Linked DNA regions of Homo sapiens. The protein of the gene in region 4 interacts with the protein of the main gene of each other region in a biochemical or structural test. Each region holds a gene or a part of one and is shown on either strand. Other genes may lie near its edges.

Region 1 (4,711 bases), on a different chromosome or scaffold from region 4:
ACACACACCAAATTTTTATTGCCCATCTTCTTCATAATGGGGTGGGAGTAGAGGAGAGGACAGAGAGATGAATACCGAGCAAAACAAGAAAGAATAATAGAGAAAAACACAAAGATTTCTAAAAGGAATGTACAGACCAAAGGAAGTTGTTGGGTATTAATAGTTTAAAAAAAAAAACAAAAACAAAACTCAAAACATCAGAACTGGCAAACTAGAGCCTAATATCACCTAATCAGCACATTTTCTCCTTAAAGGAGCATCTAAATGAAAAGCCACGTTACAATAAAAAGGCAAGTATGTTCTCAGAATGAGGGTCCCTAATGATTATAAATTTTTAATCATGATACCTCAGGCTTTACTGTAGGACATAACTGCCAATTAAGCATTAGTGTTGGCTGACCAGGGCACCCTCCCCTGAGTGACATTAAGATTAAGTGGCTTATTCTTGCTCTCAGGCACCCCTTCTTTTCATCTTCATGCTGACCATAGCCCTCACATTAAAAATAGTCTTTGTTCAGACTGGCCACAACACAATTGTTTCAGTTTTAGCTTTATTTCATAAAATACTTTCATGCCCTCTACCCTAACTCCTTGATTCAAGTCACCTTGACTGTACTGGATGGAATGTTAGGCCATCTCTTCCACAGGCCATCTATTGAGTCAACTAGTTTCATTCAGAATCCAGGTGAAATTCAAGAGTATCATGATCAGTCTCCCAAATACTGATATATAAGTAGTGGAATCATCTCCTTTTAGAAAGTTTAATTAAATTAATATGACTCAAATGACAAATAAATGTAGTAGAAGCATGTTATTTTAGATTACTCTAAGGGACTGGATAACACCTTCTACTGTGGTCAAGAGTGATGAAGCCTCCACTGTTAAAACCAACATCTGTAGAGAATTACAAAACCAAGAACCCAGAGCTCCTGTAAGAAATCTGTTAGAGTGAATGGCAAGAATCATGAGACTTTTCTAGTCTATTTTGAAGAGCTCCAGATATATTCTACAACCTTCCTCTATAGAACACTCAAGCAATTCTCATACCGAGGATGGTTAAGACTTTCTTATAATCAAGATCTCTCCTTGTGGAGCCCTTTCAAGGTAAAAAGCTCGGCTCAGACAAATTAAATGTTTAATACAATTGTGAATTCCTTAAATCAGTTTTCATCCAAAATCATTGCCTCACAGTAAATAAGAAAAAAAGGTCACAGATTGCTTCTGGCTCTTTTTGTCAATAATCTTAATTTATATTGGGGTTATTTCCCACTTAAAAATTTTTTTTAATTATTTAAAATGTACCATATATAACATAAAAATTAGAAAATAAAACATACACAGAAATCTGTAATTTTGCACAACCAAATATTTCATGGGTCAAAGTTTAAACTTTCAGACGAAGTTTTTAAAAAAGCAGATCTATGAACTAAAAAGTAGCCTATACTCCTGAATTCAACCATAACAAAGGGACTTAATCTAATTTAATAGCACTGAGTCCTTCTATAGATTTTTACCTGTAGAAAATAAGACAAAATTGATCGAGTATTTAGCAAAACTAGTCTCTTTTTTATTGTGTAAACAGATAACAAGATAAAATAACTATATAACTCAGAACTTTAAAGTTTCTCATGTTTATGCTAGACATATTGTATTTTCAGATAATGCATGCTTTCTAAATTGTGTTATGAAAAATCCTTAAAACTATTCAATCAAATCAGGCCAATTATATATCTTGTTGACAATTTTCTTCCAACAATAATGTGTATCTAAAGGACACTAAATGTCTTATCTTGGAAAGAATTCCCCTCTTATTTCATCTAGCTAACTCTTACTATCTTTTAGGTCTCAAATGTTAACTTCTTCCAGAGGCCTTCCCCAAATCCAGATTATATGCCCTAGTTATATACTCCTGATACCACTTTCTACTTCCACTAACAAAGCATTTAAATACACTGTATTGCAACTGTCTAGAGGTCAAAAATAAAATTAGAACAGCCTCAAAGTGGTAGAGAAATCAACCCTTCAGATTAGGCTGCAGTTGTAAACAAGGTGGGGTGGGCAGAGGCAGGAGGGCCATAAGTGAGAAACTCCCTTGTAAAGGAGAAACGCTTTGCAAAGGCTTCTCAAAGTAGTGCGACAGCCAAACAGGACAGTAAGACTGACTGTATGCTGTGATTTACACTGATCCATTCACTTTTATAATAATATATATGATGGTTTAAAAATTAGATGAATCAATTTAAGAAAAAAGGTAATACACACTTTATTTTAAAGATTCACAAACTGGATAAACCTCACCTGTCATAGGATCAAAGAGCTGATTAGCTTCTAAGTCTGTGAAAGTACTACTACAGACAGGACATTTGAAGGAAGCCCGGTTGGTCGAATCTCTCTCATCGGTCTCAATTCTTCTTCTCATGTGGTCCAGTTTATATTTTACCACATTAACAAGAGTACGATAATTGATGAAGTAGTAGTTATGGCGAGTGGTTTTCCCGTCTGCAGCAGTCTCTACCCTCATTCTGCATTTGATAAACTTGTCTCCCTTTAAATTATTCAAAACTGATCGAAGTTGCTTCCGATCAAACTTGAGCAGCTCCAGCATATCCTCCTCTTTCACACAGGAGTTCCTGATCAAGATGTCCAAGGCCAAGGCATGCTCAATGCCATAAAATCCCCGGATCACATACTTGGCTAACCGCTTCAATGCTGCTGGAACTTCAGTGAGGACATCTGGGTCTGCCATCTTTAGCAACGAACTCCAACTTTAAATATACTGAATTCAAAAAAAAACAGAAAATTAGCCAGGTATAAGAACATGGTAATCATATCCACTATCCTTGCAGTGCCAGAAAAGTACCCAAAGTGTTTAAAAAGATTTCTAATACCTAAGCATTTAACAGAGCAGAACAAGATTTTCCTCTAGAATGCACAAAAGATTACACCCAAAAAGCTTTACATATTTCTTAAATGGCTACTTTTATGATCTATAGTGTGTTTGATTAAAAAGTAACTTTTTATTTATAAAACAATATATTACGTCAAGTCTACTTTACTTCAGAAGAGAAACACAAAAAAAGCTACATGAAATGCTCACTATTCTTTGGGAATGCTGGAAACCCTGAGAAAACTAGCAGTTCGCATTTCCTAAAAGTGTCTTTGTTTCCTTTCTTGAGTAAAATTTTTCTACCAAGATTCTAGGATGTTTTACATAGTCATGCTTTCACAATAAAATCACAACAAACCAATAAACACATGAGTAATCACCACCTGGGGTGTTTGACAAAATCATTAACTGTTGTAAAACTGAAAGAAAGTAATACTTAGATCCAGACAGTTTTACCAACCTTGAAAAATTGAATCTGATAATCAAGGAAAGACCATCCAGTCCTTAAAAAGGTAGAAAATGAGGGAGGGAGAGCAGCCCAAAATATTCTTAAATACTGGATCCCTTGACAAAGCAGAAACTAAGTGTATCTCATTTCCGTACCATGACCCAGAAAGCTGTCTTCTCAAAGCCCACATTGGCATATAGTTTACTTTAAAAACCTGGGCTTCGGGCAGAGACACAACCAAAAAGGAGAATTTTAGACCAATATCCTTGATGAACATTGATGCAAAAATCCTCAATAAAATACTGGCAAACCGAATCCAGCAGCACATCAAAAAGCTTATTATCCACCATGATCAAGTGGGCTTCATCCCTGGGATGCAAGGCTGGTTCAATATACGCAAATCAATAAATGTAATCCAGCATATAAACAGAACCAAAGACAAAAACCACATGATTATCTCAATAGATGCAGAAAAGGCCTTTGACAAAATTCAACAACTCTTCATGCTAAAAACTCTCAATAAGTTAGGTATTGATGGGACGTATCTCAAAATAATAAGAGCTATCTATGACAAACCCACAGCCAATATCATACTGAATGGGCAAAACCTGGAAGCATTCCCTTTGAAAACTGGCACAAGACAGGGATGCCCTCTCTTACCACTCCTATTCAACATAGTGTTGGAAGTTCTGGCCAGGGCAATCAGGCAGGAGAAGGAAATAAAGGGTATTCAATTAGGAAAAGAGGAAGTCAAATTGTCTCTGTTTGCAGATGACATGATTGTATATCTAGAAAACCCCATTGTCTCAGCCCAAAATCTCCTTAAACTGATAAGCAACTTCAGCAAAAAGTCTCAGGACACAAAATCAATGTACAAAAATCACAAGCATTCTTATACACCAATAACAGACAAAAAGAGAGCCAAATCATGAGTGAACTCCCATTCACAATTGCTTCAAAGAGAATAAAATACCTAGGAATCCAACTTACAAGGGATGTGAAGGACCTCTTCAAGGACAACTACAAACCACTGCTCAATGAACTTAAAGAGGATACAAACAAATGGAAGAACATTCCATGCTCATGGGTAGGAAGAATCAATATCGTGAAAATGGCCATACTGCCCAAGGTAATTTATAGATTCAATGCCATCCCCATGAAGCTACCAATGACTTTCTTCACAGAATTGGAAAAAACTACTTTAAAGTTCATATGGAACCAAAAAAGAGCCCACACTGCCAAGTCAATCCTAAGCCAAAAGGACAAAGCTGGAGGCATCACGCTACCTGACTTCAAACTATACTACAAGGCTACAGTAACCAAAACAGCATGGTACTGGTACCAAAACAGAGATATAGACCAATGGAACACAACAG
Region 2 (4,401 bases), on a different chromosome or scaffold from region 4:
AGTCTCCCGCTCTTTTCTCCCAAGCTGCCCTCCCCTCTTCCCCCTCTTCCCTCCCCTTCCCCTTCTTCCCTCCTCTCTCCTCCCTCCCCACTCTTCCCTCCCCTCCCCTTCTCCATCTTCCCTCCCCTCTCCTCCCTTCCCTCCCCTTTCCTGGGCCTTAGCTTTCTCTTCTGTGAGATTGAGAGGAGAGGCCGCTGTGGGACTCAGAAGAGGATGTGCCTGACACACATCCCGAAACGATGAAAAGGACGTCCCTTAAAAGACAACTGTTCCCTTGGCCAGGTGCGGTGGCTCACACCTGTAATCCCAGCACTTTTGGAGGCCAAGGCGGGTGGATCACCTGAGGTCAGGAGTTCGAGGCTAGCCTGGCCAACATGGTGAAACCTTGTCTCTACTAAAAATACAAAACTGGGAATGGTGCTGCGCGCCTGTAATCCCAGCTACTTGGGAGGCTGAGGCAAGAGAATCGCTTGAACCCAGGAGGCGGAGGTTGTGGTGAGCGGAGATCACGCCATTGCACTCCAGCCTGGGCAACAAGAGCAAAACTCCATTTAAAAAAAAACCACACAACTGGTCCCAACCAGTTCCCCCCAAAAGATGGCTGGTCCTGGAGAGACTTGGAAGTCTGCAGCTCAGAGCAGCTTCCCTTGGCCACATTCTGGAGGGGCCTCCGCACCCTTACTGGGGGAACTGAGGCCAGTGCAAAGGTCCCCATGAAAGGCATGGGGACTCCTCCACCTTCCCTCCCCGTCCACTGAGAAATAGGGAGCCCAGGCTCCAAGGGGCCTCCTCCCTCCAGCCCCCACTCTGCTCCAGGGAGACCCCCTCAGAGGAAGAGACCCTCAGGGAGGAGGCCCAGCCCTCCTTCCTGCAGGAGGGAAGGCCGAGGTGGAAGGGCCAACCCTGCCTGCTTCTACCACTGCCCCTATAGGAGCACTTACCTGGGGGTGGGGGTGGGGCGCATACAACTTCTTTCTGCCCTCTGAGGGGACTGTCATCACTGTCTTCTCTTTACGGCGGCGGCGGGGTTGGGGGGGTTGGGGGGTGGGGACGGGGAAGCAGGGCTCAGAGGGTTCCAGCCCCCAGCCCAGGGTCACACAGCAAGTTAGAAGAGCCAGGATTGGAATCCAAGCTGGAGAGACTTCCATGACCATGAGCCTGGTCACCCTACCAGCCTATGTCCTGGGGTTGGTGCCAGCTGCAAGCTGTGAATGGCACACACGGCCCACCTCCCACCCCCATCATGCTCTCTGGACATCCCAACCCCTGCCTCTCCCAGGGACAGGGTGTGGAGACCGCAACCCCTCCCCTCCATCAGGAAGGGATGGGCTGTTCCCCCCACCTCCTTCCAGTGCTCATGAGCATGGCCAAGATCCAGGGATAAAGAGAGCCCAAATTCATACTAGGTGCCAGCCCAAGCAACGAACTAGGGGGACTCAGGGCCCCTCCAGGGCTGCCTCTCAACATTCACAGAATGTTCCCCACACCCAACACTCCCCAACCCCCGCAGCCTCAAAAAAACGCGGGCCTTCCATTGACTGTAACTGACAAATTTATTGAAGTCTTGGAAAGAGCTGATCACCCGAGAATAAATAAAAGACACAGAACATTCACAGAACCAATAGGTAGCTCGAGATTCAGGTTTGCGGGAGTGACTTTGACTTACACACAGGCCAGCCTTTGTGTCTGGGGCACGCACAGCTGCGGGCATCTCCCAGAAACTTCTTCCCAAAGGATCTGATGGAGGAGGCAGGGCAGGCTCAGAGGAGCCCCACCCTTCTCCAGCGGGGAGACTTCCCAATCTGGGGCTGGCAGAGCCGGCTCCGGCAGGGAGGGCAGGCTGTTTGGCAACAGACATCTGTGGGTGCAGCCTGGACACCAAGGGCCTGGGGTGGGGTGAGGAGGAGACCCTGAGGGGCTTAGAGAATTGAGCTTGGAGAGAAGGGGCGCCAGGCATTTTTGCCTCCTCCACAGGATACTCGAGAACAGAATGATCTAGAGACCTGGGGATTGGGGAAAGCTTCTCCCGGGGAAGGTGGGGCTGGAGGCAGAGAGGCCCCCTGTGGTCTGGGGAGAGGAGGGGGCCTCTCCCGGAGGACACAGGTGTGTCCCCGCCTCTGCAGCCTCTTGCCTCGACAGGCAAGGCCAATCTCCGACCTAAAGAGGGAGCCTCGGGGTGACGGCTCCAAGACACATGGAGCCTGGGAAGTGAAAGCACAATTATGATGATTTCTCAGTTTTAGAGATGAAAGCGTTTTTCCAGCCCTCGGGCTATGCTGGGCTGGGCTGGGCCTCAGCAAGGTGACATTTCATGTCTAGAAATAGCAGCAAGTGCTCAGTTAATTGGTCAATAAAGGGGAGAAATTTGCTTACAAAAAAGGCTGGCTTGCTGGGAGGCCACCTGGCGGGCCAGCCCTGTGTCAGAGGAGGGGCCAGGTGGGTCCCTCAGCCCCCAGAGAGGGAGCTGTGCGGTCGGCAGTGGGAGGCTCCGAAGGCACCAGCCCTCCCTTGACGCCCTGGCCCCACTTCCTCGGAAACCCCAGCAGCCCCGAGCCGCCCACCCAGGGGCAGCTCCCTCGTGTGAGGTGCAGGGTGGAGCCGGGCCTGGGTCAGAACTGAGCGTGGTCTACCTCATCCAGCCAGGAGGCGGGGCTGGCAGGGAAGTCGGGGTAACCCCCGCTGCTCCCCGTGGATAGGTCAGAACTGGGTCCGTTCCCTGCCAGCACCCTCATGGGTGGGGGCCCGCCGGGGGCTCCCGAGGGCACAAGGCCCAAGCTGGTGTCTGGGTACACCAGGCTGGAGAGGAGGGGCTGGGGGCCAGGGAGGCTCTGCGGGGCGGCGGGGGATGGGGGGACACCGTAGGGGCTGCCGGGACGCAGCTCTCGGTACTGCTCTGGGCCTGCCAGGCCTCCATGCTCCAGGGAGAAGTTGCCCAGGGCTCCCGAGGGCCGGCCCAAGGCCTGGGTGGGTTCCCCCAAGCTCCCGTAGAGGCCATTGGCCGGGCCCATTTCCGCCAAGGAAGGCTCATCTGCAACAGAAGCAGAGGCTCAGTCAGCGCCTGCCCTCCACCTGCGGCCCCTCAGAGTCCCATCCTGCAGGCGGAGGCACCCCTGGGTCGGAGAAAGAGTGGCTGCCCCACACCACATGACAGGTCATAACAGGCCCCTTCTACTGTTGGAGCATGGCTGCCCCTGCCCCTCCACTGCCCTCACCCCTGAGTCAGCCCAGGTGTCTCAGGCCTGGTGGGATCAGAGTCAGGAACAGCCCAGCCAGGGCCCAGGCTTTCAGGACCAGCCCCACAGCAGCCTAGGAAGGGGGCACAGATACCACCACCCACATTTTGCAGACAAGGATATTTAGTTCCAGAGTGGCTGAGTGAGTAGCCCGGGTCACGAGGCAGCCCAAAAGAGAGTGTCTTGTCCACATTCTGAGGATGGGCATCAACAGATGGGGACGCAGCATCCCCGGTGCCCGGAGAATGAAATAAATAATCCAGGCCCCACAGAAGGGTATGGAACCTTCTCTCCCTGACCCCAGGTAGCCCCCTCCCCCAACTCCAAGCAGCTGGGACTTCGACTCAGTCTTTCCCGAAATGCACTGCCCATTCTCCTAAAAATCACTGCAAGGGCTAGGAGCCAGAGAGACGGCCTGGACACGCCCACCCCCCCATGAGAAAGCCCGTAGGCGCCCAGCTTGGGGACAGGTCGGGCCACAGGGATTGTGTCCCCACCAGGGGAAAAGCAGTGGTCCGGAGTGGCCACCCAGGGCGGGGAGGGTGCTGGGGGAGCAGGTTCTGTAAGTGAAATGCTTTTGAAAGTAGAACTTAAGGAGTCCACTAACTCCATGGGAAATTCAGATCCGCGGGCTCCCTGGGACCCCTGCGACCCCGCCGACGCGCGCTCGTCCCCCCCCGAGCTCCGCGATCCCTCCGCCTACCGGGGAAGGAGACCTCAGCGTCGCTGTCCTGCCCCTCCTGAACGCTGTCCTTGTCCGACTTGGAGCCGCCGCGGGAGCGCTTCATGTTGCGGAAATACTGCCCCCAGCGCTGCCGGCCGGCGTCCTTCTTCAGCCTCTTCTCCTTGGCCCGGCGGTTCTGGAACCAAACCTGGGGGCGGGGCGGGGTGAGCGGCCGCCCGGCTCTGCGGGGGCCCCCAAGGCCGCGGGCGGGAGGGAAGCAGGGGCGAGCGCTGACCTGCACCACGCGCATGTCCAGGCCCGTCTCGGACGAGAGCTGCTCGCGCACGTGGCGCGCCGGCTTGGGCGAGGTGTTGTAAGCGCTCTTCAGCGTCTCCAGCTGCTTGGCGGTGATGGTCGTGCGCGGCCGCTTGGCCGTGGCCTCGGCCTCTGCGCGGCGGGCGAGCGGTGAGGCGCGGCAGCCCCTCCGGCCCCGGCCGGACCCCC
Region 3 (4,711 bases), on a different chromosome or scaffold from region 4:
CCTACACCTCCTGAGCTCAGGTGATCCTCCCACCTCAGCCTCCCAGATAGTTGGGGCTACAGGTGCATGCCACTATGCCTGGATAATTTTTTGAAGAGATGGGATTTTGCCATGTTGCCCAGGCTCTTCTTGAACTCCCAGGTGCAAGCGATCCACTTGCCTTGGCTTCCCAAAGTGCTGGGATTATAGGCATGAGCCATTGTGCTGGGCCCAGAGGGCAGATTTAAGATGAACTTTCCGGGCTAGATAGATATTCACTGGACCAGGTGCATAAGGAGAGTATATTAGTAATAGGGAATTATATGAGCAGAGGCACAGAGAGGTAGAAGTGGTGGGCTACACGTAAGATAACCTTTCTTTTTCACTCTAGTCATATTGGGAGAATAGTTAGTTTGATTAGAATGTAAGGAGTGGTAGGGTGGTGGAAGAAATAGGGTTTGGTAGGTAGGCTGAGGATATCCTATGGAGGTCTTGGGTTTCAGGCCAGTGAGCTCACATTTGATGTGACAGGGAGTGGGGGCTATGGCATGAGATAGGTAGTGGCAGTGGGAATGGCAAGGAAGAGATGGTGGTGAAGGTATTCAGAGGTAGAATGGACAACCGATTGTGTAATCTAGAAGTGGGGAGGAAGGTGAGTGAAAGGAAGAGTTGTAGATAGACCAAGGTTCACAGAGCTGGTGTTTTAAAGTTGGGAAACCTATTATCATTGGGAAACAGAGTGTTTCTCCCCACCACACAGTGTAGAAATAACCTTTATTAACTAAGTCATAATATTTCAATAGAAAAATATTTTAATACAGTATTGATATAGTAATATTATATAATACTATATAAATATTATATTAACATAACATTAATATTACTATATCAATGTTATGATATTAACATGCATATTAATATAACAGTGCAGAGAAAAAATCTGTATCACAATCAAAAGGGCAGACAAATTAAATCATATAATAGTATATTATATATAACAATGTTATAAATAATATGTTTCAAATCTACTTTGCTTTTATTATAGTTCTGCAATTACCTGCAAATGTTATGTGAGGTCCAATCATGCCTCTTTTGAGTGGCCACTATATTCCAGGATTTGGTACCTGTCCTCTGTAACTGGCCAAGCCCACCTACTAGATCTGCTTTTTTGTTTGTTTGTTTGTTTGTTTTTTGAGACAGAGTCTCACTTTGTTGCCCAGCCTGTAGTACAGTGGCTTAATCATGGCTCACTGTGTAGCCTCGATCTTCCAAGCTCAAGTGATTCTTCCACCTCAGCTTCCAGAGTAGCTGGGTCTACAGATGTGTGCCACCATGTCTGGCTAATTATTTTTCTATTTTTTTGTAGAGCTGGGGTCTTGCTATGTTGCTCAGGTTGGTCTTGAGCTCCTGGACTCAAGTGATCCTCCCTCCTCAGCGTCTCAAAGTGTTGAGATTACAGGTGTGAGCCACTGGCACTAGATCTATTTTTAAAATAGGCCGAGTATCAGCTCTGAACTCAATGTGAGTAAGGAAAAATAAACATTTATTGTAAATAGATCAGACAAGGAGTGTGATGGAAAACTGAGGAGTGTTCGGTGTTGTTCTCTTTCATTCCTGCCTTTGTCAAAACTAAGGATGGAGACAGAATATATTTCAAACCCATGTAGCTTGTACAGCACCCAGCATTCTCATCTGGCTCAATGAATGTCAAAGGATAATAATAATGGCCCATTAACTTTCAGAGGACATGGGATCAAACCAATAAACAGTAGTTCATACTTTTCCATATAGTGACCTCCTCTTCGAAGCAGGGCCTTCATTAACGTAACAGCTGTCTTAATGTGGCTTTAACCCGGTGACTCTTGACATTCCTTATGGCTTCTTTAGTTCCCTTGAGACACATCATGGCTGGCACCACGGCTGTGATCTATAGCCTAACAAATTCCCTAGAACACCCAGCATATGGATCTTTTACTTAACCCAGCAGGAAAAAGAAGGGAGTAGTTAATCACTGATTAAAATGCCAGAAGAAAATCCTTTAGTTTTTAGAGGATCTGGGAAAGCAGTAGCCAAGTCAACTCAGTTTGAGTGATAGCCAGAAAGTGTGAGTTAGTTTAATTTGGGGCACCTGGGAAAACCAAACACGAAACACCCCCCAAACCCCAAATCATGTCTACATTTCATTTTTTTTCTCCTGAGGAAAAATATTTCTACACTCTTCTAAATAGAAATGGGACTAAAGCTATAATAACTTTAGCCTCTGTCAGTGTTTTATATAAATTCATTTAGGCTGTAGCTGTGTTGAGTTTATCATAACCAAATCTGAGTACACAATGTAAGAACTGTTGTATACTAACGACTATTTGCCTAGTAATAATAACACTACAAGGTTTTTTTTTTTTTTAAAAAAGATGATTTGCCTAATTCATCTGTAATGAGGGTAGCTGTTATTAATATCATGCAAATAATGACAAACATTCAAGTTTTGTGGGGAGGAATTACTTGCAAATATTAATTAATTAATTATTTTTTGAGACAGGGTCTCACTCTGTTGCCTGAGCTGGAGTGCACTGGAGTACAGTGGTGCGATCTCTGCTCACTGCAACCTCTGCCTCCTGGGCTCAGATGATCCTCCCGCCTCAGTCTCCTGGGTAGCCGAGACTACAGGCTTGTGCCACCACACCCAGCTAATTTTTGTATTGTAGAGATGCGGTTTCACCATGTTGCCAAGGCTGGTCTCAAACTCCTGGAATCAAGTAATCCTCCTATTTTTTGGCCTCCCAAAGTGCTGAGATTACAGGTGTAAGCCACTATGTCTGGCCCAAATATTTATGATGTGCAAAAGTTTTAGTAAATATTCCATCTAAGAATCCCATGAAGTAGGCAAGTAACATCCTGTTTTACCACGAAGACAATGGAAGACAGAAAAACAAGTTACTAGGGGAAATAGAATTTAACTAGGAGTCAGATGATATGGGTTTCGTTCCCAGTTGACAAATGTGTTTTGTTGAGCAAGTTACTTAATCTTGCTGGAATCCTTTTGGACTTCAGGTTTTTAATTTTTTTAATTTAAAAAAATATGGGGTTGGTTAGATCACATGATCTCAGCTGGGGTTCATGCCCCACCAGGATAATCATGGGTGGACTTCAGGAGATCTGGGAGATTTGAGATTTGTACACAAAATTTTGCTCCTTTGCTTGTGTATGTGTATATACAACTGTTAACTAGAGAAAGGGCCTCTGGCTTTCATTATGTGCTCAAATACCTTTCTCCCATGCCCAAATTAAAAACTAGTAGAACGCATGATTTCTCAGGACCCTTATAGCATCAGTAATTTAGGATTCCCAAAAAATAACAATGGTGATTCCCAAGGGTCCTGAGAAATCATGCATTTTGGGAATGACCCAAATGCATAATTTCTCAGGACCCTTGGGAATGAGAAAGGGAATGAGAATATGGCAGAATCCTTATAGCATCAGTAATTTGGAATTCCTAAAAAAGCACCATGATGATTTGAAGCCGTCTAACTGATCTGTATAGTTCAGAAGTTCAGATAGGTATAGAATATCCTAAGCTCCGTAATGAAGCAAACATATGTTCATCCTGAAGTTCTCTGCAGGAGTTTGCTTTTGGGAGGTATCAAGATGCAGTTGAGTGTGCTTTTGTGTGTGTCCATGGTCTTTTCACATGCATGGGAGCATGGCCTTCCTCCTGTTCAATCTTGCCCATCCTGTTTCCAACCTGCTCTCCAAATGGTGGCCAAAGTTGGATAGCAGCAGTGATTGGAAGGCTGGGAGAACCTTTCATAGAAAGAGAAAGGAGGTGAGAGTGAAGGAGAAGGTCCAGGGAAATGAGCAGCTTGCCCTGAATTTCCCTACTTGGAAAGTACTGTACTTGGCATGTCAGCATTCGACATCCTGAGTCTAGTATTTAACCAAACGTTTTACAATCTTGTTGCGAATTCTCTTTCTAAGGATTAACTATTATGTTCTCTCCCCATTTTTCAAATTGCATTTGAAGTAATCCGTCTTGAATAATGTAGGCTGAATTGCCTTTGAGAACACCACCAAAAATGTGAACCAGTAATTTATTGATGGGCAAAATTAGGCTGACACCAAGGGACAATTAGCACTAATCCATGAAACTTGGAAGCAAATTTGACCTAAGCCTCCATTCAAGTCAAACCGGCTTTCAATTATTTGAGGTGTTTTCTGGGCACTTTCCTGTTTACTCACAGACACAAAAGGCTTTGGCTGGACACCACAGAGTGAAGGAAGCAAAACAGAGCTTCAATTCTTGGTTTTCTCAGATAGAAGTGTCAGTGTGAGACTTTCTATTTAATAGCTAGCATTTACTGAACATTTAATATCTCCTTGGTATTCTTTTAGAAGCTTAGATTGCATTGCATTTTTAATAGTCACAACAATCTTGTGAAGTAGTTTTTATATTCCCCGTTTAGCACATGGGAAAACAGAGACCCCCAGATATTAAGCAAATTGTTCATGGTCACAGAAGTATTAATATAAATGAGGAGCTGAGATTCAACTTTTGCCTGGTCTGTATTGCACACATGTGAATAAGATGTATTGTTGTATCTTTACTGTAGAAAGTACTAGTTTCCCCGCCACCCGCCAACTTGTAATGTTGAGAGTCTGAACAAACTGGTTTGCTTACTCATAAAAAGTATGAAAATTTCTTTTCTAATTATTATCTTTTTTTCCTAGTTATCAT
Region 4 (4,711 bases):
AGCTAATTTTTGTATTTTTAGTAGAGACAGGGTTTCACCATGATGGTCAGGCTGGTCTCGAACTCCTGACCTCAAGTGATCCATTCACCGCGGCCTCCCAAAGTGCTGGGATTACAGCCATGAGCCGCCATGCCCGGCCCCAACATACCCTTTCTGTATACAACCCAATCCCCTCCCTATCCTCCCATTCTTACCTGTAGAAAGTCTCGAATATGCGTATTGGCCCTTTTGGAGTTAGGCCCAGGAACTTCAAACAAGGGACACTGCTGGCCAACCACAAAAATATCCACTAATTCCCGAATATAGTAACCCTGTCTTGTCCGAATGATCAAGAAATCAGTTTCTGGCATCTTATGAAGATAAATTGGAGCACGAAAAAGGTTGTTCTCAAATGCCTAACAAAAGTAAAAACACAAAAATTATATACAGAGTAGCCCTAGGAAATTCAGTCAACTGCTGAGAAAGAAATACCAAGCTTATTGCTCTCCATCTTAATTACGCCATCTAAGGTCTATCCAGTAATACAAATAAATTAAAATATAGATTATCAAATGTGACTAAACAATTTTTCATCCACTATCTTTCAGAGTCAGTAGGGGAGAAAATACAGGATGTGAATTCAGATGATGCTAGCTCTGCCATTACCTCTATGATTTAACATGTCTATTTAAGCTATTTAACATGTCTAAGTTTAGTTTTCCTCATCTACAAAACAGAGATACTTAAAAATGCCTATACCTCACAGGACTGCTATGAAGATTACATATGAAAATCACTTCATAATGTACCAAGTACTATACTACTACCCTAGACCCCAGTGTAGCCCAACACACAACGTGTGAGAGCAACATTTGTTGAATAAATTATTAAACTAATTAAAAAACAAAACAACGCCGGGCACAGTGACTCATGCCTGTAATCTCAGCACTTTGGGAAGCCGAGGCAGGTAGATCACTTTACCTCAGGAGTTCAAGACCAGCCTCGGCAACATGACAAAACCCCATCTCTACAGAAAATACAATAATTAGCTGGATGTGGTGGCGTGCGCCTATTGTCCCATCTACTTGGGAGGCTGAGGTAGGAGGATGGCTTGAGCCCAGGAGGCAGAAGTTGCAGTGAGCCAAGATCGTGCCACTGCACTCCAGCCTGGGTCACAGAGCCAGACCCTATCTCCAAACAAATAAATCATAAAACAACCAATGAGGTAGAAAGAGTGCTAGACAGAATAGGCTGGGAAAAAACAAAAGGAAAACACAAGACAGTAGGACAGAGGACAGCTGAACAGAAACATTTGAGCCAGTTTAAGTAGAGGCAAGATAGGGATAAACTGTCACAAGAAGCCTGAGTCTAAGGAAAGCCTTCCCCGAAAATCAGAAGAGTAGACAGAAAGAGGGAAGACCATCACTGAGTGTGGAAAGAAAATTCTACATGTGAAATATAGGCAGAAAAAGAATTACAGAAGAATACAGAAAAAGATCTTTTTTTTTTTTTTTTGAGATGGAGTTTCGCTCTTGTTGCCCAGGCTGGAGTGCAATGGCGCGATCTCGGCTCACTGCAACCTCCACCTCCCGGGTTCAAGTGATTCTCCTGCCTCGGCCTCCCGAGTAGCTGGGATTACAGGCATGTGCCACCATGCCCGGCTAATTTTGTATTTTGAGTAGAGGCAGAGTTTCTCCATGTTGGTCAGACTGGTCTCGAACTCCTGACCTCAGGTGATTCGCCCACCTCGGCCTCCCAAAGTGCTGGGATTAACAGGCGTGAGCCACCACGCTCGGCCAGAAAAAGATCTTTAAGAGACTACAAAAGTAGCCACAAAAGAAGAGGCTGAATTGGTAGAAAACCTCAACAGAAAGTTCCAGGGAAAGGAGAAGAACAATACAAAGATGATACTAAACATCCGGTTAGCAATAGACTATGAATGTAAAGGATAAAGAAAAAAACTGAGCTTTGCAGATGCTTTAGGAGAATAAACAACAACAACAGTAGAATAAACTAGGTATAAGAGTAGGACAAATGGTTAAGATTGCCAAGAGAAATGAAATGGAGAAAAAAAACAAGATGGGAGAGTGCTAGAGATTTTCCACATCATTTGTGGACCATCATACTTCCCCCCTTGAATATATAAAAGCTGTTATAAGAGAGCCTCTTTACACCCATTAGAACAAAGGAGGGAAAAAAAAAGCATTTCACTATGGCTGGGGACTGTAGATGGCACAGTTCAGGTGTGGTTCAATATTCACAATAACCACAGCTAATGTGATCAAAATGTTATCAATTTTATACACAAAAATTAAATATTCATAAATTATAGTAAATTTATAGTAAATTCATCCTAGGTTGACTTCCTTATGCTTCCCAGATGTTACTGAGCTTACCAGTGTGTATTTTTAAAAACCTATTTTACATTTAGCCTGAGAATAACACAATTCACAGCCAGTTTTAAGAAAAAGATTTCTTTAAAACATTTTTGGATTATACTTATTTTCTTTGTACTTAAAATTAAAGCATCTCAATCAACTAGAATTATAATAGTTCTTTCTGAGCTGACTGGTTCCTCATTTATCAATTTCCTTAGTTAACAGTAAAAACAGGAAAGAATTCCTCACTTGCAGCAATTGGCCAGGATGGAGAGAACCCAGGAAAGGAGATGTATGGCAGTAAACAGTTTCCCCATATTTACAATCTGGTGCTCCAGGATCTTTTCCAGGTTTCTATAAGGAACACAGAAGACCCAGTTATTTAGAATATATCAATAATCCTACACAATATGACCATAGCACTTTACTAATACAGGTTGAGTATCCCTCATCCAAAATGCTTGTGACCAGAAGTGTTTCGGATTTTGGAATAGTTGCATTATACTTACCAGTTGGGCATCCCAAATCTGGAAATCCAAAATGCTCCAATGAGCATTTGAGTATCATCATAGTGCTCAAAAAGTTTAGGATTGGCCGGGCATGGTGGCTCATACCTGTATCTCAGCACTTTGGAAGGCCAAGACGGGCAGATCACGAGGTTAAGAGATCGAGACCATCCTGGCCAACATGATGAAACCCTGTCTCTACTAAAAATACAAAAATTAGCTGGGTGTGGTGGCACACGCCTGTAGTCCAGCTACTCAGGAGGCTGAGGCAGAAGAATTGCCCAAACCCAGGAGGTGGAGGTTGCAGTGAGTGGAGATCATGCCACTGCACTCCAGCCTGGCAAAAGAGCAAGATTCAGTCTCAAAAAAAAAAAAAAAGTTTTGGATTTTGATTTCGAATTTTGAGATTTGAGATGCTCAACATGTTATAACTACAAAAAAAGGTACCACTCCTTTCTCCCAAGAAATTTATGGTATATGTTCACAGATTACCAGTAGATCTCTAACTACAGCTACGTTAATAATAAAAAATTTGTATGTAAGTTTGCAGTTTGTCTCACTACAGCTATGTTAATAACAAAAAGTTTGTACATAAAAGTTTATGGAAGCATAAGCAGAATTATGTATGGGAAAAAAATTTTCTGAGCAGAGACTCACCCGTTTATAATAGTTCTTTATCTTGGTTGCCATGCCAACCTGCATCATTAAGGGTCCATTTTCCTCACTATATTCTGCAAGAATAAGATCACCATCTTTGCCTGTGAGGTCCTGAGGTGTGCGCATAAAAAACATCTCTCCACCACCTGAAGCTTGCCTCTCTTGTTCTCTCATCTGTCCAGAACAAAGAAAATACCATCTAGCTCCTGACAGGACACTACTACACACAATGACGTTGTTCAATCTGAGACAAACACACCAAAAACATTTTACCTATTTTCCAATTTCATAATCAAAATTTTCAAACATACTGTAAAGTTCAAAGAATAGTACAGTCGGCCCTCCATATCCATGTATGGGTTCTGCATCCGTGATTTCAACCAACCATAGATAGAAAATATTCAGAAAATACAAGTGCATCTGTGCTGAACAGGTACAGACTTTTCTTGTCATTATTCCCTAACCAATAACAGTGTTAACAACTATTCACATAGCATTTACATTGGAGTAGGTATTATAAGTAATCTAGAGGTGATTTAAACTATAGGAGAGGATGTGCATAGGTTATGTGCAAATATTATGCTATTTTATCAGAAACTGGAACATCTAAAGATTTTGGTATCCAGAGAAGGTCCTAGAACCAATCTCCCAGAGATAACGAAGGACGACTGTACTATGAACACTTATTATCCCACGTCGCTGTTTATATTTCGCCATTTTTTTAAACTTTTATCTTTCTATAGACTTTGCTGGACAGTTTTTGAAAGATGCAGTCATTCTGACACCTCACCTTTAAATATTTTCACATGCATCACCTAACAATAAAGACATTCTCCTAAATAACCAAAATAACATTCTATCACATCTGAGAAAATAACCAATTCCCTAATACAATCTAATACCTGGTACATTCCCTTAATTTATACCCCAATATCCTTTATAGCTGTTTTCTAACCAGAATTCAATTATACCTTGGCCTTTTTTTTGATGTGCTTTAGCAAAGGTTGGACTGAGTGGGGACCTGGCTGAGAAAGTGCACCAAATGAGTACTTTTTCAGAGGTGGGCGATGGAACTGCCGGAGTTTGATGGGCCCCATGTGGGTGGGAAAGAAGGGCTGCCGTAATTCCACAGCAGGAATTGAATGCTAAAACAGGAAATAGAAGGGTTAAAATTAGCTAATTCCATCCTAA
Region 5 (4,711 bases), on a different chromosome or scaffold from region 4:
CCCGGGAGGTGGAGGTTGCAGTAAGCCAAGATATCTTGCCACTGCACTCCAGCCCAGGCAACAGAGTGAGACTCTGTTCCTCCCCATCCCTCCCCAACCCCCCAAAGAAAGAACTGTCAAGAGTGAAAATTTGCTGGTAAGTGAGAGTGAATCACTTACTGGAGGATTGGGGCCTTATCATGCTAAGCACTTTTAACAAATTATTTATATTCTTTTATTTGTTGGTCATAATAGGTAGGTAGCAAATAAGGAAAGAGGTCTCTAAGAGTAAATAATTTGTCCAATGCCAGGCAACCCATAGGTGTCGGGGGAGTTTTAGCTCAGGTCTGTTTATTCTTTCCACAACGCTATGCTTATTTTTTTACTTGTATGTGTACGGTATGCCTCATTGAGTGTCAGTACTGAAAGGTGATTCAGAGAACTTTAGATTCCAGTCTTTTATTTTATATACCAAGGAACCAAAACTGAAACTTGGCAGAGTTAAAATAATAGCATACTAGGACCATAGTCTAATTATGTTCCTAGCACTGTATTAAAACATTGCATGCTATTTACCTCTGAGAAACCCATACAAAAGAGAGAAAGAAGATAAGTTGTCTTTAGGAATTGGTCGTTATAGAGGAAGTGGGGATTTGCTTTTGGGAATTTTCTGCTGACGTGTGGCAGAAGGGTGTACTAACTACATTTGTGCTCTTATTGGATAGAATAAGATAACCAATAGTTGAAGAATAAAATGGAAACACTGATTAAAGTAACTTTTTAAAAAGGTTATGAATCTTATACTATTTCTTTTATATCTTTCTTTCTTTCTTTTTTTTTTTTTTTTTTCTTTCTCTGAGACGGAGTGTCACTCTGTTGCCCAGGCTGGGGTGCAGTGGCATAATCTCGGCTCACTGCAACCTCCGCCTCCCGGGTTCAAGCAATTCTCCCGTCTCAGCCTCCCGAGTAGCTGGGATTACAGGCACACGCCACCATGCTCGGCTAAATTTTGTATTTTTAGTAGAGATGGGGTTTCACCATGTTGGCCAGGCTGGTCTCGAACTCCTGACCTCAAGTGATCAGCCTGCTTCGGTCTCTCAGAGTGCTGGGATTACAGGCGTTAGCCACTGCGCTGGCCTGAATCTTGTACTATTTCCTTTGCATACCAAGAATTAGCACTTGATTACACAAGGGTGCTTATATATGTCAGTTCTTCATTTTTCAAGATAATGAATACTTTAAGTATTTGATTCTCTTTACTTCAGAGTTTCATCTATGAACAGAACTGGTTTAAAAAAAAAATATATATATATATACACACACACACACACATATACATATATATGCACCACAGGTTTTTCTAGGGAGCAGGAGCTTGAAATAAAAAGAATGCACAAGAGAATATTTGAGGAAATATTAATAAAAGGTTTTCAGTAATTTCTTCAGTCTTTTGTGAACATGTGGGGTTTTAGGCTGAACTGTGGTTCTTCTTGATATTCTTCATCTTGTCTATCACCTGTTTGAGAATGATAAGCAAGGACTTGATTCCTTCTTTTAGGTCATAAACTGGGATAAATTCTGCATGACAGTCATACTGTACAAAAGTGTGAAAGTTACTTATGAAGCAGTGAGGTCCCTTTTCATCAGCCTGTTTTCATGCTGAGACAGGGCATAGAATTTGCATCTCCTTTCCCAACTTCTTGATCCAGTCCTTGGATAAGTTCTTTGTTTCCACTCTGGCTTTATCAAAGGGATACAGTGTACATGATCATCACTTCCACAGTTGTCACAGTGCTGCTGGGCTTTGTGAAATGAGGGGTATTCTTTTCAGTGTTCACCATACACCATCCACTGTTTGATTTTCAGACTGTAGAGTTGGCGTAAAGTGATAGTGGCCATGGCATTACTCTGTCGGTAGTCAGCCCACAGGAGAAAGTGCTGGTGCTCCTCTCCTGCGGATCTTCCTCAAGGTGAGGTTAGGTTCTCCTGTTACGTGTTTCCATTTGGATGCCGTGCTTTCACTCTCATAGTACTCCCACACTTTGTTTTCTTTTTGATTACAAGGTCCTTTTTGATTACAAGTCCCTGCTTCTGTAATCAGGGACTCTATGTCGCTATTATCTATCCTCAGGGCCTAGTGAGTTGTGCACGAAGGCGCTCAAGTATTTGAATGTAGGCATATATGGAGAGAGTAGGGGGCAATAGGGCTGCAGCCCCTAAGGGATTCTGAGGGTCATCACACATATCAGTGTGTTGAGTTTTGATTTCTTTGCTTATTCTACTTACAAAAGCAGTATATGTTCATGTGAAAATCACTAAAATGTAATTTCCTCTTCAAAGTAATTGACAAACTTGTGGTGTGTTGTTTTGCTTTTTTTTTTTTTTTTTTTTTTTTTGATGGATTTTGCCCTTGTTGCCCAGGCTGGAGTGCAATGGTGCAATCTTGGCTCACCACAACCTTTGCCTCCCGGGTTCAAGCGATTGTCCTGTCTCAGCCTCCTGAGTACCTGGGATTACAGGCATGCGCCACCACCCTTGGCTAATTTTTGTTGTATTTTTAGTAGAGATGAGGTTTCTCCATGTTGGTCAGGCTGGTCTTGAACTCCCAGCCTCAGGTGATCCGCCCACCTTGGCCTCCCAAAATGCTGGGATTACAGATGTGAGCCACCCAGCTGCTTGGGGTTTTTTTTTTTTTTTTTTTTTTTTGGAGACAGAGTCTCACTCTGTTGCCCAGGTTGGAGTACAGTGGCATGATCTCAGCTCACTGCAACCTCTGCCTCCTGGGTTCAAGCAATTCTCATGTCTCAGCCTCCAAGTAGCTGAGATTACAGGTGTGTGCCACCACACCAGGCTAATTTTTTTCTTTTTAGTAAAGACAGGGTTTTGCTAAGTTGGCCAGGCTGATCTTTGAACTCCTGGCCTCAAGTGATCTGCTGATCTCAGCCTCCCAAAGTGCTGAGACTGCAGGCATGAGCCACTGTGCCCCGTCTATTGTGTCTTTTAAGTATTAGTGTGTCCAGAGTTGGTTCCTTCTGGTGGGTTTGTGGTCTTGCTGACTTCAAGAATGAAGCCGTGACCTTGGCGGTGAGTGTTATAGCTCTTAAAGATGGCACAGACCCAAAGAGTGAGCGGTAGCAAGGTTTATTGTGAAGAGCAAAAGAACAAAGCTTCCACAGTGTGGAAGGGGACCTGAGCGGGTTGTTGCTGCTGGCTGGAGTGGCCAGCTTTTATCCCCTTATTGGCCCCTCCCACGTTCTGTTTCTTTCCTATCCGAGTGCACTTTTTTCAGTTCTCCCTGTGATTGGCTACTTTTAGGATCCTGCTGATTGGTGCATTTTACAGAGCGCTGATTGGTGCATTTTATAGAGCGCTGATTGGTGCATTTTACAGAGTGCTGGTTGGTGCATTTTAGAATCTTCTTGCTAGCTACAGAGCACTGATTGGTGTGTTTTTACAGAGTGCTGATTGGTGCATTTTACAATCCTCTCGTAAGACAGAAAAGTTCTCCAAGTCTGCAGTCAACCCAGGAAGTCCAGCTGGCTTCACCTCTCAATCTCCCCCCACCCCCGTCTAAACAGGACACCCCAGCTGCTGTTGGGAATTGGGTGATGACCGCTCTAGTTACTTCTTGCTGGATAGGGGCGAAGAAGGGGCCCTGCAGTTGTAGTGTCCTCTGGAGGTGAATTCTCTAGGCCAGTCAAAGGGCCAGTGGGTTGGTCCAGGGGTCCTCAGTAGAAGTTGTGAGTTGAGCTCATTTGGGGTGCCATTTGTAAGACCATCTGTAGCTTGATGGCCTCGATCCTGAAGGAAACAAATTTGACAAGGAGATTAAAAACACAGGGCCTGAAGGCGAGTAATAGCAAGATGGCTGTCACAGGACCTAGAAAGGGGAGAAGCCATGTCGCCCAACTCCAGAGGTTGGGATGAGTTTGAAAGCCATTGTCTGATTTCAGAAGCCTTTTCCTATAAACACCTGGTGGCATCTCGTACTATCCCTGACTGGTTAGTATAAAAGCAACACTCTTCCCCTAAGAAGGTACAAAGTCCTCCTTTCTCAGCAGTGAGGAGGTCTAGGCCTCAGCGGTTTTGGAGAGTCACTGCTGCCAAACAGTCTATTTGGGATTGTAGAGTAAGGATAGATTTTGTTATTTCTTGCAAACTGTCTGAGAAATCCTTTGAGAGTGTGTGGTAGTAGGATAATGAAGTAGATAAACTGGCTATTCTGGTTCCTGTAGTGGTGGCCATTCCTAACCCTATAAGTAGTGGTATTAGTTGTATGGCCCTGCGCTGATGGACTTGAGCTTTGAGGGGCACTGATAGGGTCTGATTTCCTGGGGCAATGTCAATGTTGGGACTTAGGAAGACTAAGGTGCAGGTGCCTGTCTAGTTGGTGGGGAGGCAGATATAGGTTGAAGTTCCACATAAGAAGAATATGGCTTCGCTGGGTAGACAGAACTGGTTGTGTATGTTAAAAAGGTGTGTGAATTTGTTGTTTTCATTTTCCCATACTCCTAAAGTACTTGCCAAGGTAGCTCTGGTGAGCGGCTGGGAAGGGGTGTTGGGAGCAAACTGAGTGGCTCTCTGTGTTCTATTTTCCCATTGGAGAAAAAACCGTTTTGTATCTACTAGGAAGCATTCAAGAAAGTAATTGAAAGAAGGGAGGAGAAGGCATTCACTAGCGGTGGGGGCGCTGCTGCAGGGGGTCCAGAGGTGAATGGTCATGCAGGGAGTA

Evidence for each region.
Region 1: the proteins of TAF1 (region 4) and GTF2E1 form a complex in vitro, tested with the Homo sapiens proteins (one study listed by BioGRID).
Region 2: the proteins of TAF1 (region 4) and LHX3 form a complex in vitro, tested with the Homo sapiens proteins (one study listed by BioGRID).
Region 3: the proteins of TAF1 (region 4) and PAX3 form a complex in vitro, tested with the Homo sapiens proteins (one study listed by BioGRID).
Region 5: the proteins of TAF1 (region 4) and TAF4B form a complex in vitro, tested with the Homo sapiens proteins (one study listed by BioGRID).

Annotation. Positions count from the first base shown.
Region 1 is NC_000003.12:120,748,588-120,753,298, reverse strand, and holds part of GTF2E1 (general transcription factor IIE subunit 1), read right to left. Parts: intron 2,777-4,711; 5' UTR 2,747-2,776; coding exon 2,299-2,746; intron 1-2,298.
Region 2 is NC_000009.12:136,194,716-136,199,116, forward strand, and holds the end of LHX3 (LIM/homeobox protein Lhx3), read right to left. Parts: intron 4,345-4,401; coding exon 4,193-4,344; intron 4,106-4,192; coding exon 3,937-4,105; intron 3,029-3,936; coding exon 2,610-3,028; 3' UTR 1,535-2,609; downstream 1-1,534. UniProt on the Homo sapiens protein: Transcription factor.
Region 3 is NC_000002.12:222,225,402-222,230,112, reverse strand, and holds part of PAX3 (paired box protein Pax-3), read left to right. Parts: intron 1-4,692; exon of another isoform or gene 4,693-4,711. UniProt on the Homo sapiens protein: Transcription factor that may regulate cell proliferation, migration and apoptosis. Involved in neural development and myogenesis. Transcriptional activator of MITF, acting synergistically with SOX10.
Region 4 is NC_000023.11:71,382,945-71,387,655, reverse strand, and holds part of TAF1 (transcription initiation factor TFIID subunit 1), read right to left. Parts: intron 4,666-4,711; coding exon 4,492-4,665; intron 3,695-4,491; coding exon 3,521-3,694; intron 2,712-3,520; coding exon 2,607-2,711; intron 396-2,606; coding exon 195-395; intron 1-194. UniProt on the Homo sapiens protein: The TFIID basal transcription factor complex plays a major role in the initiation of RNA polymerase II (Pol II)-dependent transcription.
Region 5 is NC_000018.10:26,228,685-26,233,395, forward strand, and holds part of TAF4B (transcription initiation factor TFIID subunit 4B), read left to right. Parts: intron 1-4,711. UniProt on the Homo sapiens protein: Cell type-specific subunit of the general transcription factor TFIID that may function as a gene-selective coactivator in certain cells.